Linked DNA regions of Homo sapiens. The protein of the gene in region 2 interacts with the protein of the main gene of each other region in a biochemical or structural test. Each region holds a gene or a part of one and is shown on either strand. Other genes may lie near its edges.

Region 1 (7,027 bases), on a different chromosome or scaffold from region 2:
CGACAGTGAGACTCTGTCTCAAAAATAAATAAAGAAATAAAGAAATAATAAATAAATAAATAAAAAATAGTACATCTACATGATGAAATTCAATATCGGTATTTAAAGGAATAAGGTTGAACTATCATACTTTATCAATTCTGAAATACCACTAAATCTAAGATAAGCCATCTATTTAGTAGCAATTTTTTAGCAGGAAGAAAGTAAACATAAAGCTTTTATTAATAATAGCATACATTTATTCATTCAATTGTATACCATTTTCGTCTGTCACAATAAAGTTTGAGTCTCAGCCTTATTCACATTCAGAATCTAGGATCCTTCTGAATTACTTCGGTTAGTTAATGCAACATCATGATAACAGGCTGCTTTTCATAATGCTAGTTAATTATCTTAACCTATATTGTCTTTATGATTGTGTGTATAATTTTAAGGTATATTGAAGAATACTGGGGTTTTGCTTGCCTTTCATTTTTGCTTACTTAGTTTTTTTTTCTTCTTCTTAATTGAATTACCTATTGCTGGAAATTAAACAGCTTCTTCTGAAGATAACTCCAAAAGTTTTGGCAGACTTTTGAGTCTGTCTTACCTTTGAAAATTCTGTGATCTTGCTTGAATTTAATAATTACTTATGCCTTTAATTGCATTGTCTATTGAATGACAGTTTGAGTGCACAATACTATGTCACAATGGAATCTTTCAGAACATTTTGTGGACCAGGCATGGTATCATCCCAGTATTTTGGGAGGCTGAGGCAGGAGGAACACTTGAATTCAGGAGTTTGAGACCAGCCTGGGCAACCTAGCAAGATCTCCATCTGTATTTACAAAAATAATAATAGCTGGGCGTGGTAGCTCATGCTTGTAATCCCAGCACTTTGGGAGGCTGAGGTGTGTGGATCACATGAGGTCAGGAGTTCAAGACCAACCTGGCCAACGTGGCAAACCCCTGTCTCTACTAAAAATACAAAAATTAGCCAGGTGTGGTGGTGGGTACCTGTAGTCCCAGCTACTCCGGAGGCTGAGGCATGAGAATCACTTGAACTTGGAAAGCAGAGGTTGCAGTGAGCCAGAATACGACACTGCACTCCAGCCTGAGTGAGACAGTCTCACAAAAAAAAAAAAGTAATAATGATAAAAGAAAAAAAGAGGCCGTGCGCAGTGGTTCATGCCTATATAATCCCAGCACTTCGGGAGGCCGAGGCAGGTGGATCACCTGAGGTTAGGAGTTCAAGACCACCCTGGCCAACATGGTGAAACCCCATCTCTACTAAAAATACAAAAATTAGCCACACATGGTGGCACATGCCTGTAATTCCAGCTACTTGGGAGGCTGAGGCAGGAGAATTGCTTGAACCCGGGAGGCAGAGGTTGCAGTCAGCTGAGATCACGCCATTGCACTCCAACCTGGGCAACAAGAGAGAAACTCCTTCTCAAAAAAACAAAAACAAAACAGAAAAAAAGAAAAAACATTTTGAGCATCATATATGGTGCTGCCAATGAAAATATTACAATTGTCCGGGTATGGTGGCTCACACCTGTAATCGCAGCACTTTGAGAGGCCAAGGCGGGTGGATCACCCGAGGTCAGGCATTCGAGACCAGCCTAGGCAACATGGAGAAACCCCGTCTCTACTAAAAATACAAAAAATTAGCCGGGTGTGGTGGTGGGCTCCTGTAATCCCAGCTACTTGGGAGGCTGAGGCAGAAGAATTGCTTGAACCCGGGAGGCAGAGGTTGCAGTGAGCCGAGATGGCACCATTGCACTCCAGCCTGGGCAACAGAGGGAGACTCTGTCTCAAAAAAAAAAAAAGAAAATAATACAATTGAGGTAACAGAGATTTCGACTTTTATGTATGGTTAAGTTAGGCATGTGCAATGACTGCTACTCTAGAACTTCTCTGCTTTGGAGGGGAGATTGGACCTTGATTTATTTGGAAGGAACTCTCATCCATTGTTTTCATTATCATACTCGGCCACCTGTGAAGTGTGTGTTGGGTGAGTATTCTCTCTTTGGAAGGTACACATCTTTCTCAGCTAGCTTATTGCTCATAGAAGTTGGGGGCCCAAGGGTTGATCTTAAGATATACTCAATTTATTTATTTATTTATTTTTTCTGGGACAGAGTTTTGCTCTGATGCCCGGGCTGGAGTGTAGTGGCACAATCACAGCTCACTGCAGCCTCGACCTCCTGGGCTCAATTGATCCACCCACCTCAGTCTCTCCAGTAGCTGGGACTGCAGGTGCACACCAACATAATTGGCTGATTTTTTCTATTTTTTGTAGAGTTAGGGTCTCACTTTGTTTCCCAGGCTAGTCTCAAACACCTGGGCTCAAGAGATCCGCCCACCTCAGCCTCCAAAAGTTTTGGAATTACAGGCATGAGCCACTGCACCCGGCCCTAACTTTTAGAAATATTAAAATGTAGAAAAGCATGCTTAGAATCAAACAAACATGATACTGGCCGGGCATGGTGGCTCACACCTGTAATCCCAGCACTTTGGGAGGCTAAGGTGGGAGGATCGCTTGAGGCCAGGAGTTTGAGACCAGCCTCGTCAACATAGCGAGACCCTCATCTCTATTCAAAAAGAAAAGAGAGAATAGAAGATAAAATATGGCTGGGCGCAGTGGCTCACACCTGTAATCCCAGCACTTTGGGAGGCCAAGGTGGGCGGTCACCTGAGGTCGGGAGTTCGAGACCAGCCTGACCAACATGGAGAAACTCCGTCTCTACTAAAAATAGAAAATTAACCGGGTGTGGTGGCACATGGCCTGTAATCCCAGCTGCTTGGGAGGCTGAGGCAGGAGAATTGCTTGAACCCGGGAGGTGGAGGTTGCGGTGAGCCAAGATCGCGCCATTGCACTCCAGCCTGGGCAACGAGCGAAACTCCATCTATAAATAAATAAATAAATAAATAAAAGAAACATGACACCTAACTGTGGAAAGATGTTCACGGTATTATGTTATTCTTTTGCTAAGAAATTGGGCCCTGATTAGTGACAGAGGCAAGATTCATGGGTCCTATTATCCACATGCCCAATAATCTCTTAATCAGGTCCAGATATGGTTCCTCTTGGTCCAGGGACCTGTGAAGTAATGTGTCCTGTGTGCTGCGTGTGTGCGCACTCTCTCTCTCTCTGTCACTCACTGTGTCTCCTCTCTATCTCCCTTCCTTTTCTTTTCCCCTTACTCACTCACCGCAGTACACAAGGGCCACAGTAAGCGCTCTTCCTAGAAAAAGAGAATAATGGGAGATAAGCAGCAAATGCTGATCTATAATCTGAAATCTCCTAGGCAGATTCTGTGTAAGCAACCGGGCCTGGAGGTAGGGGAGATTGGACCCTGATTTATTTGGAAGGAACTCTCCCATCCATTGTTTTAATGATCATCCTTGACCACCTGTGAAGTGTGTGTTGTACCTTCCCTTTGGAACGTACAAATCTTTTTCAACTAGCTTCTTGCTCATAGAAGTCGGGGACCCAAGGGTTTTAAATTTTGAATAGACAAGAAGATTTTTTTAGTATGAACTTGAGATGATTTAAGAAAAAAAAATTTCATTTTGTTTTTTGAGATGGAGTCTCACCCTGTCACCCAGGCTAGAGTGCAGTGGCACAATCTCCGCTCACTGCAACCTCCGCCTCCCAGGTTCAAGCAATTCTTCTGCCTCAGCCTCCTGAGTAGCTGGGACTACAGGCACATGCCACCACGCCCAGCTAATTTTTGTATTTTTTAGTAGAGATGAGGTTTCACCTTATTGGCCAGGCTGGTCTCAAACTCCTGACCTCGTGATCCGCCTGTCTCGGCCTCCCAAAGTGCTGGAATTACAGGTGTGAGGCACCGTGCCCGGCCAAAAGATATTTTTTTTTTTTTTAACAAAACAGTTTCTTTAAAGTTAGTAAGCCTCTTCCGATCTGTTTGGTTTCCTTCAGTTCTATGTGTCAGTAACCACAGTCGAAGTTCACATGTATTGGTAAACTCATCCAAAGATTTAAGAGCGTCTATTCCTCCTCCTCTCATTTGGTTGTTTGAGGCTATTAGGTTTGATGGGAAGGCTACGTCTTTAATATGGTCTTAACCACAGAAGCACTAGTTAGCTAAGGGGTTTCAGTGGGCATCTGTGCTCAGTCTTTTAATCCTGCCTCTAGGGGTCTAGGTACAAGCTGCTTTTCCAATCCTTCAAGGCTTTAAATTTCTGAACTTTTTCTATTCTCTTCTGTTTTTGCTTTCAAATCTACTACTTCCTTCTTGAACTCATCATTTACTTATAATACTTGCCAAATATCTAATAGCAGCCAATACTCACTTCCAAAATCCTCTTTACCAAACTCCTATAACACTACAAGGTCAGTAGCCTCTTTGTATGTTCACTGACCTTGTAGTTGTATGAAAAGTTATTATAGGCAACAGCGTTACCAGATATTTTGCCACTATAAAACATGATCCTCCATCTTTCCAGCCTCCGGTATCTGTTTCCTCTCAGCCCTTAATCTGACCACTAAGGCAGTATCACTAAGGCAGGACTGCATAGGTTTTTATTGTAGCAGCACCTCACTTCCAGGTACCAGTTTTCTGTATTAGGATAATGAAACACTGAATATACAGATGGACAATGGCCAGATCATATATAAAACTAGAACTCTGACCCATGACCTATGTAGCAATAGGCCCAGTCAGGACTTGGTCAGTAATTACCAGCTTCCCTAATTTTTGTGCCTTCTTCCAATTCGGGACGACTCAGAGAAAGCCAAATATGCTTCCCAAATCAACCACATAGGATACCCCGCTTCCAGTGTCGACGAAGAGTCAAACTCTGTAAAATATTTTAAGAGATCTATTCTAAGCCAAATATGAATGGCTATTGCCCCATGACACAGCCCTCAGGAGCTCCTGAGAACATGTGCCCAAGGTGATCAGACTACAGCTTGGTTTTATACATTTTAGGGAGACATAAGACATCAATCAGTATATGTAAGATGTACATTGGTTAGGTCCAGAAAGGAAGACACCTTGAAGCAGATGGCTTCCAGGTCATAGGTAGATTCACAGATTTTCTGATTGGCAGTTGGTCGAAAGAGTTGTTACTGTCTAAAGACCTAGAATCAATAGAAGGGAGTATCTAGGTTAAGATAAGGGGTTGTGGGCAGGCACAGTGGCTCACGCCTGTAATCCCAACACCTTGGGAGGCCGAGGCAGGTGGATCACGAGGTCAGGAGTTCAAGACCAGCTTGGCCAACATAGTGAAACCCCATCTCTACTAAAAATACAAAAATTAGCGAGGCATGGTAGCGCACGCCTGTAATCCCAGCTACTCAGGAGGCTGAGGCAGGAGAATCACTTGAAACCGGGAGGCGGAGATTGTGGTGAGCCAAGATCAAGCCACTGCATTCCAACCTGGGCAACAGAGTGAGACTCCATCTAAAAAAAAAAAAAAAAAAAAAAAAAAGATAAGGGGTTGTGGAGACCAGGGTTCCCATTATGCAGATAGAATCAATAGGAAGGAATGTCTGAGCCAAGGTAAGGGGTTGTGGAGACCAAAGTTCCCATTATGTAAAGGAAGCCTCCAGGTGGCAGGCTTCAGAGATAATACATTGTAAATGTTTCTTATCAGGGTTGATTCTCTCCTGGATCAGGCAAAAGGCCTGAGAAAGGAAGGGAATTAACTTCAGAATGTAGATTTTCCGCACAAGAGACAGCTTTGCAGGACTGTTTGAAGATATGGCAAAGAAACATAATTTGGGGTCAAATACTTGGATTTCTTTCAGGGCCTGCCATCTGTCATGTGATACTATGCTAGAGTCAGGCTGGAATTGGGTATCTTATTGCTACAGAGAGTCTGTTTTGTCAGTCTTAAGATTTGTTTTAATGTTAGTGCTGGTCAGCTGTGCCTGAATTCCAACAGGGAGGAGGGAATAATGAGGTATGGCCAAACTCCGCTTCCCATCATGGCTGGAACTAGTTTTTCAGGTTAACTTTCAAATGCTCTTGGCTGGGAGGAGGGGTTCATTCAGATGGTTGAAGGACTTAGAATTTTATTTTTGGTTTACATCAGTTAGCCCACCTCCAGTTTCCCATGCCAACAACCTACAATCAGAGCATACCTGATGTCTTCCCCCTTTTTTTAGTATAAAGATTTCCCACTCCCCTGCTTGCCTTTGAATCTTTGCCAAGCACAAGTTGACAGTGGCTGACTCCCTACCTATATAGTAAGATCTAATTAAATAGCCTTTGTTTGTTTCCATTTGGGCAGTCTTTGTCTATTTTCACAATGTTATTAGGCTGTTTTGTGGTAACAAATCCCCAAATATCAATGGCTTAACACAACAGAAATGTTTCTCTTGCTCAGAGTTCAGTGGGAGTCAGTAGGGTTCTCCATCCAGTGGCTTAGGGATCCACCTTCCTTCCATATTGTCAAGCCACCATCTCAGAATGTAACCTACATTGTCATTAAAGCAGGAAAACCGAAGCAAAGTGACTTTTAACTGCCTCAGTCCAGAATTGAGATATGTTACATCTGCTCATCCAGCTTTGGCCAAATCTGGGAAATGGAGTCGAGTACTGTATGTGAATATAGTCTCTGCCAGAATATATTTACCAAAAGCAATTGGCTAAAGATATACACAATTCCTCCATTTCAGCGTTTTTGAGATCAGAAGATTTAGATTATCTTACAATTGAAATTTTTTTTTTTTTTTTTTTTGAGATCCAGTCTCGCTCTGTCGCCCAGGCTGGAGTGCAGTGGTGCAGTCTCGGCTCACTGCAACCTCTGCCTCTGTGGTTCAAGCGATTCTCCTGCCTCAGCCTTCCGAGTAGCTGGGACTACAGGTGCCTGCCACCACGCTCGGCTAATTTTTGTGTTTTTAGTAGAGACGGGGTTTCACCATATTGACCAGGGTGGTCTTGTACAATTAAAATTGAAATGAATATTCAAATGTAATGCTTCTGTTATTTCCCCTGATAAATGAAGTGACATTGTTTCATGGAAATAATAGTTTCTTTAAAATGAATCCTGTGTATTTTAATTGCATGTA
Region 2 (6,872 bases):
GCAGTCCCATCATGAAAACACCCAGGTGGCAGCCCAGTCACCCGAATCACAGGCCAAGGACATCAGAGAATCAACAGGCTTCTCGGAGTCAGGCTTGTAAACCTGGAGCCCATTGGTCCTTCTGCACCGTGAGATGCGAAAGTGAGCAGCGTGTGAAAAGCCTTAGGGTCTGCACATTGGCTTGACATGTTTTCCACCAACATGTGCAAAATCTGAATTAGTACGTGTAGCTGGTGAGTGTGAGAGAAGTAGGAGGGGAGGGAGAACTAGAGGGGATTTGGAGTTGACAGAGGGAGAAGGAGAGAGAAGTGGATGGAGTAACGTGACCTGAGTGGAGGGACACCGAGTCCCTGAGGTGTGGGTGCAAAGGGCCCTGTGAGGGGCCGGGAGGGAGTGAGTGCTGACAGTTGTTGAGGCGTGGAGTGTATGGGGATGTACTAATAGACACAGTGAAGCTTCCCTTTGCTAGCCAAGCACCGCAGAGGCCATCCCTCCAAGCAGAGGGTTGCAGCAAGCTCTATTCTCTCCCGCTCAGGAGCGGGAAGCCGCCGGGTGTTTCGGGGTCCCGCTAGGAAAGGGGACAGCGGAACCTGGTTCAGGCAGCCGGCGGCGGCGCGGGACGAGCTGAGTGGTTCTAGCGAAGCGCTGCCTGCCTCAGAGCAGCCGCGACGCTTCCCTAGTAGAGCTGGGCCGCCGGAAGCCCGAGGCGCGGGCGGCTTCTGCCGCTGTTGCAGGATTCCCGGCCCTGGGGAGAAAAGCGTCTGTATCAGAGCCGTGTAGATTGCTCGCGCCGGCTGTCGGGACCTCCGAGGCGCGGGGCCAGGCTGCGAGGAGGCGCGGGAGCTGAGACTGCGCTCAATCGGCGGTTCACTGGAACCGTATCCGCAGGCGGCGCTACGGTGGGACCACGGTCAGGAGGCGCCGGTGGCTGCTGAATTGCAGCTGCGGGACCCTGGAAAACTGGGGCAAAGAGGCAGTGAGTTCTGCCCAGCCCACCACCCTGGCCTTTGGAGGTGAGCGCCGCCCCAAGGTCACTAAGCCGGGGGCCCTGCGTCGCCCCAATGCCGCGGGGAGAAAAGGAACCGGCCCTGGCGTCCACAAAACCTAGGCACAGTATGCCCTGTTCAGAGAGGATCCCGACCTCGCCAGCAACCAGCCTACCTCCGAAGGTTGAGAAGTAAATCAGGGCGCCCCGCACCGTTTCCTGGAGCGCCCGGTTCACCCACCTCTGGCTGGGCCGGCAAGGAGAGGATTCTGTTCTCTCCCTAGATTCCTCTATCTCCAGCCCGAAGCCCCTGGCTTTTCCGCAGAAGCCTGGAGGGGACCTGAAAGTAATCATTCTGCCAGCTTTCCCGCCCGCATTTTCTTGCCTGTTTTCTGAGCCTTCGAATGCCGGACAGCCATGTGAAGGCACATCTTGGGGAGACCGATTCCAGCCCTTCCCAGGGTGCACGCATCAGGCATCCTCTTCTTCACCAGGGCTGGGGATTCTGTTCCTCTACGGGACAGTCAGAAATCAGTATTTTCAGAGCAGAACTCCTTTCTATTCTGAAAATCCTTCAGAGGAACTCCTTCATTTGCCCCCAACCCCTACACACACACACACACACACACACACGCACATGCATACACACACAGGCTCTTTAAAGGCTGAAAAGGGAGCCGAGTGTGGAATTCAGGGAAGTGATGACACACACAACAATGCTGTTACACCTGGCTGCTGCAGGGCTGAGCAGCGGAAATGCCTGTGAGAAGAAGAAAGAAAGACAGAGAGACGCAGAGAGCCAGCCTGGGTGGTCAAGAAAAAAAAAAAGGAGAGAAAAGGAGAGAGGAGCCCCCACCAGGATGGGGCCAGACCCAGCTGTTTTTCCCCCTGCCCAGGCCCTGGCTGGGGGAGGATAGGCACTGAGGCCAATCTGCAGCAGCCCCAAACCGGACTCACCACTCCCACCCAAAGCTTGGGCAAGGATGGGGGTAAGGAAGAAGAAAAACATCTGCACTCCTGCTCAGAAAGCAGCAGCAGGGATTCTGCGGAAGTGCTGCTTCCCCCATGTCTGTTGGGTGCAGTGGGAGACCGCCCATAAAAAAAACCAAGCTACTTTGGGGATAGCCTTGCTCCCTCTCATCCTTGTGACCAGGCAAGGGCTGCCCTGCTGACCTCTCTGGTGTCATCTTCAAGATGCTGAATTCCAAAGAGCCCTACCACCCTTGTCCTCCCTCCCTTTCATCTCAGAATGCAGATCAGAGGCCTGAGTGAGCAGCAGACAACACTTGTAGATGGCCTGTGGATGCTGGAACCACAGGCCGCTGAAGGCTCCTTGGGCTTCAGGAGAACCCTCAGAGTCTAAACAGCCTGGGAGGAAGAGGCAGTGACAGGCATTGAGTCAGCCACTCCAGACATGCCAATCACTAATGCACAGCTATATGACATCCATTCAGTCCACCTTCCTCCATAAGGTGGCCTTGCCCCCCTCCTCAGCACCAAGGAGTTTGGGGCTTGAGGATTCAAAACACTGGCCATCTCTCTCATACTTTATGACTGCAGACTTTTTGTTTAGGCCAAGTTAAAAGGCACTGTTAAGGAGCACACTGTTAAAAGGCACACCTGATTTTCCCTGAAACAATCTCTGTACATGCTGAAATAATTGGATTCCCATCAGAATTCTGCTTAAGGTAGGTGACAACTAACTCCTGATTCTTTGGAGAAAGATCAGAACAAATGTCTCATCAGGAGAGAGATTTGAACAAGTCCCTCCCTCAGCCTGATGTTTGTCTTCCCAGTCTGTGGCAAAATACATACACTGGGAGGGAAAGAGGCATCGAAGAATTGTGAAAGAAAGGAAGAAAGGGGGGAAGGAAAGAAGTAAGAAAGGAGAAAAAGAGAAGATGCTATATCCACCAGCTACATTTACTCTAATACTTGATGAACATATTACATAACTATCAGTATAAGTGTGTTTTACCTCGTAAATACAAATCTCACACCTTGTACATGTGCATACCTGTGTTTCTGAGCAGCACACATGCACCTGGTATCTCACCCATCTCAAGGACAGCTCCTCTCCATGACTTCCATATGTGACCCCTGTGCACACACATACACAGTCCCGCAAAGTCCCGGGCAACAGCCCCGCCTGTGTTAGTGCAATAGCTGAGGGGCATCTACTTGGTGCTGTTAAAGCACACATCCAACCTTCACTCCAACCCCGTAGGATTAGTACACGGATTCCTGGTTCCTAGATCCACTGGTAACGCAGGGAGAGGCAGAGGTGATTCAGGCGGCGCCCCTGACGACTATTTCCAGAGATCCTCTCCCCTGCCCCATTCCAGCCCAGTCACTCTGAGAGCGCGAGGGACAGGCCAGGCCGAGGCTTCTTCGTACAGTCACACCCGTTTCTGGGCTGACTTTCCCAAAGCCTCAGAGCAGCTCTCCCCACCCTACCCCGTCCAGCCCCCTCGCCGTCTCGCCCCTCCCCAGCCCCGAGCTAGAAGTTCAGCCTCAAGACGGCAGCAAACGGCAGAGCAAAGGAGTCGTTTTCTTTCACCTGAAAGCCGCGAGGAGGCTTGGAGCGCCTTTCCTCGCTGGGGCCCGAGCTTCCTGGGCTTTGGCCGGGTGCGGGCAGACCCCACCGGGGTCCTCGTCATCTCCCAGCCCAGCCCGCAGAGCGAGTACCGGCAGATTTCAAGGGCGCGTGAGCCTGGCTGTCGGCTGGGCCCCTGAGGCTCGCTGGGCGGGGGCAGGCCGGTCCAGGCTGTGCGGGGCGTTTACAAAAAGTGACTTGGAGATGAACTCGCCCGTGCGCGGCTGGCCGCCCCGCTATAGGGGCGAAGGCGCCTGACGCAAGCGGAACTCGGTGGAGCCCATACGAATCAGAACAGAGCGAGGCTCCTGGCGCACTAGGGACTCCAGGAGGCAGCTCCGCCAGAGACGCGGGTCGTGCTTCGGGAAACCGGGGGGCGGGGGGAGGGGAAGAGCGCAGAAAAGAAAACCCACCAAGGCGGGGACTGGCCTGAGCGGGGAGGGGCGGCGAGGCCGGAGCCCCTCTCTGTTGGGCGGACTCCCCATGGCCAGAGGCTGAGCTCCACTCCCGCCGGCCGCTCCCTAGGGGAAGGGGAAGGAGAGGGGAGAGCAGCGACAGGCCTCCAGCAAGCAAGCGCGGGCGGCATCCGCAGTCTCCAGAAGTTTGAGACTTGGCCGTAAGCGGACTCGTGCGCCCCAACTCTTTGCCGCGCCAGCGCCTGGAGCGGAGAGCAGAGGCGGCCCGGCCGCGGCGCGCCGGCTTTGTCATGATGGCCAGCTACCCCGAGCCCGAGGACGCGGCGGGGGCCCTGCTGGCCCCAGAGACCGGTCGCACAGTCAAGGAGCCAGAAGGGCCGCCGCCGAGCCCAGGCAAGGGCGGTGGGGGTGGCGGCGGGACAGCCCCGGAGAAGCCGGACCCGGCGCAGAAGCCCCCGTACTCGTACGTGGCGCTCATCGCCATGGCGATCCGCGAGAGCGCGGAGAAGAGGCTCACGCTGTCCGGCATCTACCAGTACATCATCGCGAAGTTCCCGTTCTACGAGAAGAATAAGAAGGGCTGGCAAAATAGCATCCGCCACAACCTCAGCCTCAACGAGTGCTTCATCAAGGTGCCGCGCGAGGGCGGCGGCGAGCGCAAGGGCAACTACTGGACGCTGGACCCGGCCTGCGAAGACATGTTCGAGAAGGGCAACTACCGGCGCCGCCGCCGCATGAAGAGGCCCTTCCGGCCGCCGCCCGCGCACTTCCAGCCCGGCAAGGGGCTCTTCGGGGCCGGAGGCGCCGCAGGCGGGTGCGGCGTGGCGGGCGCCGGGGCCGACGGCTACGGCTACCTGGCGCCCCCCAAGTACCTGCAGTCTGGCTTCCTCAACAACTCGTGGCCGCTACCGCAGCCTCCCTCACCCATGCCCTATGCCTCCTGCCAGATGGCGGCAGCCGCAGCGGCTGCAGCAGCTGCGGCTGCAGCCGCGGGCCCCGGTAGCCCTGGCGCGGCCGCTGTGGTCAAGGGGCTGGCGGGCCCGGCCGCCTCGTACGGGCCGTACACACGCGTGCAGAGCATGGCGCTGCCCCCCGGCGTAGTGAACTCGTACAATGGCCTGGGAGGCCCGCCGGCCGCACCCCCGCCTCCGCCGCACCCCCACCCGCATCCGCACGCACACCATCTGCACGCGGCCGCCGCACCGCCGCCTGCCCCACCGCACCACGGGGCCGCCGCGCCGCCGCCGGGCCAGCTCAGCCCTGCCAGCCCAGCCACCGCCGCGCCCCCGGCGCCCGCGCCCACCAGTGCGCCGGGCCTGCAGTTCGCTTGTGCCCGGCAGCCCGAGCTCGCCATGATGCATTGCTCTTACTGGGACCACGACAGCAAGACCGGCGCGCTGCATTCGCGCCTCGATCTCTGAGAGCCCACCGCATGCCGGTGCAGACGGATGCGAGGATGCAGGGACGCGCGACGCCGGCCCCGGTCGCAGCCGACGACGCCGCCGCCAGCCTGACCTCACACCCTCTGGGCCCGCCTCTGGAGCCAGCGCCCAGGGTCCCTCTGTGCTTTTTCGCTTTCCTAAGCTCCTGTCGCTCCTCTTTGTCCCCTCAGTTTATGTCCTCCTGTGCTCACCTCCCTGACCTCTGTGACCTTGCACTCCCCTGGCCTGAAGCTGCCTCTCTGCGCGCTTTCTACTGGGCTCGTCTCTTTCCGGAGCCCCAGCGTCTCCTGCCCAAATTCACCGCGGAAAGGGCCCGGGGCGGAGGTGCGACCGGGCGTCGGCAGCGCAGACCTCTTGGCCTTCTCTCACAGGTCGGTGCGCTCGCTCTCCGCGTTCCCCGCCCGACTGCCGTGCAGTCCATGGCTAGACGCGCCGGACAGGACTGATGGCGGGACCGCGCTGCCCGAGAAAGGGACGGACCAATACGTGTGTTTGCTCCGCGAACCCTCTTGAAGCTGTTCAGAAGCCGCTTGCCGCGGGGCCCACTAGGCGGGGCGGGGGTTGGGACCCAGCGGGAGCCGGGGCAGCCTGGCTCCACGGCCTGTACTCGGTTTACACCGCGGGCGGGCGCGGAGGGAGGCTGCGTTTCCTCCGCTATCAGTCCCGTCGCTTCGGGCACCTCCGGGCCCCGGCGGCTGGCTAATGTTTTGTTTGAAAGATCGGTGGAACTTTTTAAGAGAGTATTTAAAAAAAAAAAAAGGAAAAAAAATTCACCGGGCAACCGGGGAAGTATTGTGGCCTTGGAGTTTGCTAAATCCAAATATGAAAATCAAAAGCTTTAGTATTCCTCATCTTCTCTTCTGGAAGATTTGCGTTAGAGTTTTTGTTGGGCCTTCAAAAAGCTGTGTTCAGAGTTAGGAGAATATATCCAATAAAAGATGGTTTCGTCTACCAATTGGGGAAGTTTCACCCTCTCCCTATCTGAAGAAAAAAATCAAAAACAAATGTCCCCGGATCTTTCGATGCAAGTCCTGGAGGCAGGGAGATCACTGCCTGCCTGGCCCACGCTGCTGGGACGGCTCGTCCTCCCTGCTTTTTGTTTTTCAAACCTCCTGCTTCTCCCACCTTGGGAAGGAGAAATGTGAAACCCGGCAGCGGCCGACCTAGGCGGTCTTGTGGCCCGGAGCCGGCCCGGCCCGAAAACCATAGACCTGGTTGTACTGTAGCTTGTTGTTTGGGGGACCAAATTTTCTAGAGAGAACTAGAGCACTTTTGTTGTGTTTTTTTGTTTTGTTTTTGTTTTTTGCCTTGTCGATTCCCGAATAAATTTTGTGTTCCTTCTTTTAACACGGACTTCTTTATTTCTGTCGCTCCTTAGTTCAGCAGCTAGTTAAAAGAGGAAGATTTTCAGCAAAATTTTATCTTTTTCAGAA

The links. Proteins that work in one complex are often made in the same cells at the same time.
Region 1: of the proteins of FOXL2 (region 2) and LATS1, one has a biochemical effect on the other in vitro, tested with the Homo sapiens proteins (one study listed by BioGRID).

What each region holds. Positions count from the first base shown.
Region 1 is NC_000006.12:149,708,084-149,715,110, reverse strand, and holds part of LATS1 (serine/threonine-protein kinase LATS1), read left to right. Parts: intron 1-7,027. UniProt on the Homo sapiens protein: Negative regulator of YAP1 in the Hippo signaling pathway that plays a pivotal role in organ size control and tumor suppression by restricting proliferation and promoting apoptosis.
Region 2 is NC_000003.12:138,944,138-138,951,009, reverse strand, and holds FOXL2 (forkhead box protein L2), read left to right. Parts: upstream 1-3,872; 5' UTR 3,873-4,287; coding exon 4,288-5,418; 3' UTR 5,419-6,786; downstream 6,787-6,872. Other genes in the region: FOXL2NB (FOXL2 neighbor protein), read right to left, coding at 767-1,339. UniProt on the Homo sapiens protein: Transcriptional regulator. Critical factor essential for ovary differentiation and maintenance, and repression of the genetic program for somatic testis determination.